2 separate regions of the Homo sapiens genome follow, and region 1 is linked to region 2. Evidence: fine-mapped expression QTL. Tissue or cell type: tibial artery. Region 2 holds a variant in brackets; the other region holds the start of a gene. All regions are shown on one strand. Distances are between the middles of the regions.

Region 1 (2,684 bases), 380 kb after region 2:
CAACTGCTAAGATTCCAGGAGCATGGACAAACTTATGTGAATCTCTTACTTCTGCACTAACCTGAGGCACTGGGTAAAAGCTGTTCGTTGGAGCAAAGATTGCACCCCCTCTTACTCCTCCTCAAACAAGACGAAGTTACCCAGGGGTTAGAGGCTAGATTCTGTTCTAAAGGCCTGGGGATATAAGGAAATCCTCTTTCAACTATGCCTTTGAGGGAGGGGAGTCTTCATTACCATCTCCCTAGGTCAGGTATTACAACCTTCTTCACCTCCCAAGAAAATCAGATTAGCTTTGCAAACCAAAGCTGGAGATAGCAGAAGCTCCTCGGGAGAGAAGCAGTACAGTACTTAGGGACCCACGGAATCTAGGATCCAGCTCCAAGAGTCACTCAGCAGCAACTCTGGGGCAAAGGCAGAGAGTGCAGTTGTGTGATCTGGACCCACACAAGTCCCAGGAAACCAGTGACTCCTCCTTGCCAAACCCAAGGCCTGGAAGGGTATTCCAGAAAGGCATTAGGGAGGGATTGGGCTGGGGTCAGCCGGAGGTCAGCTTTCAGAGATGGGTAGTCAAGGGGGTGATGGTACCCTCCATAATGCCTAGGCAATGAAGATAGAATTTTTAATGTCCAGAACTCTGATTCCTTTCCGATTAAAAACTCCACCTGAACCAGCTCCTTGACTCAGAGGCCCTGGAACTGACAACTTTGCAGCTCGTCTAGCTTGCCAGTGCGGCTCTCTAAACTCTGATCCATCCTAAAACAAATATGTAAGTAGAGAGTGCCACTGTGCATTGGGGTGAAATCTCAGAGAGTTCTGGGCCCCAGGAAAATAACTTTCCTGACCTCCTTTCCCTACTCTTTGTTCTTTCTACTGGACTCCAGAACTTAGGGTCTGGGGTCAACCATAAGCACTCAGATGTTACAGCTCGCTTGCTTCGGTGACCCTGGCCCTCCCGCACCAGGAATTAACCAGCGCTGCCTGGGTTAACACCCTGGCCCCGAGCACGCTTGGATAGCCAGGAGCTGCTCCACACTCGGGGTCTGCCGCCTCTGGAAAGAGATTCTGGGAGGAGATGCGACTCTGTCAGGCGCCAAAGTGCGTTGAAACCCAAGCCGCGGTGTGGGGATCCCGGTGCACAGAGCTACTGCCCCTCCCTCCCTCCTCCCAAAGAGCACGGGCTGTGTCCTAGGAGCCCAAGTATAGGACCTCGAAACGTGCGGTGCCAGCCCGCTCTCATCTGCTAGGGACCGTTTCCTCCAGTGCGCCAGGCGTGCCGCTCTGGACCTAAAAAGGCAGCAGGGGTCGCGCGGGACTGAAGAGGAGGGGACGCAGGTTGGGAGAGGCCGGGTCCAAGCGAGAGCAGCTGCCAAAGTCTGCTGCCCGGGTCAGCAAAAACTTTGTCTTTCATTGCGCAGGCGCAGGGCAGGGTTGGGGGGCAGGGGAGGGAGGGGAGGAATCCTGAGGCAAGGGGCGGGGGTGGGGGTGGTGGAGGAGGGAGGGTGGTGGATTAAAATAAGTAGGCGGCTCGGTGCTAAGGGATGAGTGAGTCGGAGCTCGGCCTCTCCCCGGCACGTTCTCAGCTGCTCCTGGTTCAGACCCAGCGAGGGAGCCGCGAGCGAGGCTCACCGTCCCCGGCGTGCAGGATCCGGGGCTGCTGAGCGCTCGCTCCCGCGTGTCCGGCGCTTGGAGTCCCCGCGGCAGGAGAGGAGTCGGGACACTAGAGCTCCAGGGGCGCCTGTGGGCTCCAGGGCCTCCGGCTTCCCCAGTCCCCTTCAGCTAAAGCCCCAGAGACGTGCTCAGCCCCAGGACCTCTGCGGAACAAGGTAATTGCAGTCCTGGGCGCCTGGGCTCAGCAAAGCGAATGCGGGCAGGACTCCCAGGTTCCTTGTCACTGCTCGGCGGGTGCCTCCTCTCTCTCAATGCCCCTGAAGGAAGCTCTTGCCAAACGAATGCTGTAGGACTTTTGTGAAAGTGAGAGCAGGGTGGTTGGGGGTGCTGCCTCAGGACTTCCTGCGCGGGGTCCTCGGCCTCTGACCGCTGGGGATTAAGGGGGGCGGGCCTCCGCTACTGCGGCCAGCCCGCCCGGCTCTGCGGAATCACGGGCGAGGTGCCCACGGACTTTGAAAGTCAATCTGTGGGCCCCCTTTAAGAAACCAGAGCAACTTCAGCGGGCACAAACTTTCCTGAGACGCGCTCCTAGCTCTGGCTGACGCCCAGGTTGACGAAGAAGGAAGGGAGAGGGAGTGAATGGCCACAGCCGCAGCCGACCGCGCCAGGGACAGGTGCATGCCCCAGCTCGGTAGCGCTTTCGTTCAAGTTTGTCTTTTGAGGAGTTGCGCTCTAGTATGAGGCCGCCTAGACCCGAGAGCGCAGGGCTGCGAGTCTGAACCCCGCCTTGCACTCGCGCTCTAACTTAGGGATATTCTCCATAGGATGATTGCTCTGTGTCGTCAAGGCCTGGAGCGGAACCCTTGATTGTCCTGGTGCAGGGAGGCAATGCAGTGGGCGCAAGCACTGCTTTCCAATTCGAGACCCACACACAGCACTAGTGGAAACTCTGTGGAGCCCTAGGGTCTCCGGGCTGGGGACAGGAAAAGTTCTGTTACTCCCCTGACTGTCCGCTAATCCAGCCGTCAGGAGAGAAAGAAGGGGGAAAGGGGTGAAGGGCTGCCTGCTGAACTAAT
Region 2 (2,684 bases):
TCTGAAGACAGCTCTGGGGCTCCTCAGGTCTCTCTGCAGTGCTCCTCCTTCCCCTCTGCCTCCACTGCCCCATCTCACCAGCCCTCCCCACCAACATTTCCTCCAAGCCTCAACAAGTCACCCAAGAGTATTCTAAGGTCCCTGCTGGTCTATCTGACAATATGCAGATAGGCCTTGGTTGCCTTGGCTGGCTGTGACCTTGCTGACATCTATAGACAGAGAGGTGGGAATGAAAGACACATTACTCCTGGATGTTGGTGGAGAAGGTGGTGGTTGCAGTTGCTACGCAAGAGTCACCAGGCTGCAGACTCTGTCCACTTCTGAGAGTGCAATGTCCCCTGTGATTGGCTGGGATTTCTGAGCTTTTCAGCTTGCATATGGTGAGAATGTTGGCACACCGCAGCCCTGAGGGCCTGGGCTTTGGACTCCGGCAGTCCCACATGTGTGTGCTACCTCTGCCGCTCTCTGGTTGTATGAAGTCAAGCAATGTCTGTAACCTCACTGAGTCACAGCGCTCTGCTCTGTAGAATGGAGATGGGATCCTCTCTACCTCCTGCAGTGTCTGTGAATGCCATAACACAAGCCAGAGTGCTGAGCACCGTGCCCACCCTAGAAGAGGGCTCGGTGTATAGTAGCAGCTCTTAATGCTCCCAGGATGCCTAATAAATTCTTTCAGAAAAGTATGTGCCCGTGTGTGTGGTTTTTATTTGGCCAACCCAAGAGCTCTACTACTTCCCTTTTCTAAAGGCTAAAGGCAGGAGTGTGTAGAATCTCTTTTTCATGGTTAGGAATTATAACAACTCCCATTTACTGAATGCTCTCTATATGCTAGATATTCTCCTAAAGGCTGTATAGACATTTTTCTAATCTTTGCTCAAACTTCAAGAGAGCTATCAACTTTCTCATTCTACAGATGAGGAAGTTGGCTCAGAGAAATAGTTATTTTTCCAAATTCACACAGCGTGTGTGAAGCCAGAATTCTAACCCATGCTCCTCTCTTTATAAAATACAAATATCCTAACAGGCAGTGAGACACGCTCCACATTGGCCAAGGCAAGGCCTATGGTGTCTCAGAGCTTGTTTCCTCCTTATGGGGCCCCACCTCACTCTTGTGAAGTGGGTAGGGTGGGGGTTGTTATTCTCTTTTGACAAATGAGTAATCAAAGCTCAGAAATAAGAGGTTCCTTCTTGTAGGATTTAACATTTTGAAAGTCATGGGGCACTTCCTGGGTCACTGAAAATCAGATTCTGTTCAGGAAAATTAATGGTGGCTGGAGGTCAACCCCCATACTGGCTGTGGGTACCCTGGAGTTCCTTCCCATCCACCTCTTTGTGCCCTTTCTTTTCATAGCACACTCAGTGGGAGAAATGTTTCTTGGACCTTGCCTTTTGGATTTTTGCATTTTTCCCTTATTCACACCAGACCCGGCATCTCTAGAACTTGGTTTTT[C/T]TTGGAAAGGCTGCCTGTGAGAATGGGCTTTTGTTTGGATTTCTCCTCTCCCTGGAGGGGTAGGTGGGGAGCTGGGGGCCAGCAGGTCAAGGGCCCTCCCTTCCCTCTTCCCGTGGCCTCTCTAGCACTGCAGGCAAGGCTCAAACCCCAAGGAGAAGAGCTTGTACCTTCCCTGGGAAGAAAGGCAGGGGTCTTGCTTCAGGACTCTGGGCATGATGCTAGAGTTTGGTTGCTTCTGACCTTGAAGACTAATTCTAGAAGCTTCTTTGTTCAGGATACTTTGGGCAGTTAGTAGTTCTGTGTGTGTGTGTGTTGGGGGGGGGGCGGGGAGGGGGTTCCTTTTGACCCAAATGTTTATGCATTGCCATACATCAGAGACCCAGAGTAGCAAGGGAGAAGCCTCCACTGCTTCTGATATGTGTGTGTGTGTGTGTGTGTGTGTGTGTGTGTGTGTGTGTGCACAAAGCCTCAGTCACTAGGATGCTGAAATATCACAGGGGTGCTTTCCCATTCATTCTTCTTGAGATAGGGGATGCATCTTATTCAGGGCCACATCCCAGCCCTTAGCCCAAGGTTTGGTACAGAGAAGGCATTTATAAATAATACTTGAGTGGATTATTTTATTTTTAATTATTCCTTTACATTTAATTGAAGTATAATTACATACTATAAAATGCACAGAACTTAATGCACATTCAATGAGCTTTACCAACTGTATATCCCAATGTAACCAATAGTCCAATTAAGATAGAAAGCATTTTCATTACTTGAGAAAATTCCCCATGTCATTTTCCTCTAATTTCTCTTTCTCTACAGAAAAAAAAAACTCCACTATTTTGAATACCATCCTCATAGATTCATTTTGCCTGGTCTTGAATTTGTAAAAAAAAAGTTGGATCAAACAATATGAACTCTTTTTTCTCCTTGGTTCCTTTTGCTGAGCATAATATTTTTGGGATTTATCATGTTGTTTTTGTGTATCTGTCATCATTCCTTTTTATTGTTACCTGCTATATCATTATATGGGTCTTACCCTTGCTTTCTTTATCCATTTTCCCTTTGAAGAACTTTGGGGGTATTTCAAATTTGGAGCTTTTATGAATAATGATGCTGGGAGGATTAATATATAAGTCTTTTGTGGACACATGTTTTTATTTCTTTTGGGTAATTACGTAGGAGTGAAATTTCTGGATCGTGAAGTAAGTGTATGTTTTACTTTATAAGAAGTTGCCAT

Direction of the effects. Positions count from the first base shown, and alleles are read on the strand shown. Sizes are in standard deviations (SD) of each study's normalised expression.
For the expression in tibial artery of the gene that starts at base 1,541 in region 1, allele C in region 2 goes with a higher level than allele T (small effect, 0.35 SD a copy in GTEx).

The links. PIP is the estimated chance that this variant, and not a neighbour inherited with it, causes the effect.
Region 1: OSR1 starts here. The variant in region 2 is fine-mapped to the expression of OSR1 in tibial artery (GTEx, PIP above 0.99).

Annotation. Positions count from the first base shown.
Region 1 is chr2:19,357,480-19,360,163 of GRCh38, reverse strand. It overlaps OSR1 (odd-skipped related transcription factor 1), which reads left to right and starts at 1,541. Exons shown (of 3, transcript NM_145260.3): 1 at 1,541-1,823. RefSeq lists an enhancer at 1,669-2,197.
Region 2 is chr2:19,741,479-19,744,162 of GRCh38, reverse strand. No RefSeq gene overlaps it. Among named protein-coding and RNA genes, the nearest start is that of LINC00954, 130 kb to the left of the region's middle. The variant C/T (reference allele first, on the strand shown) is at 1,451.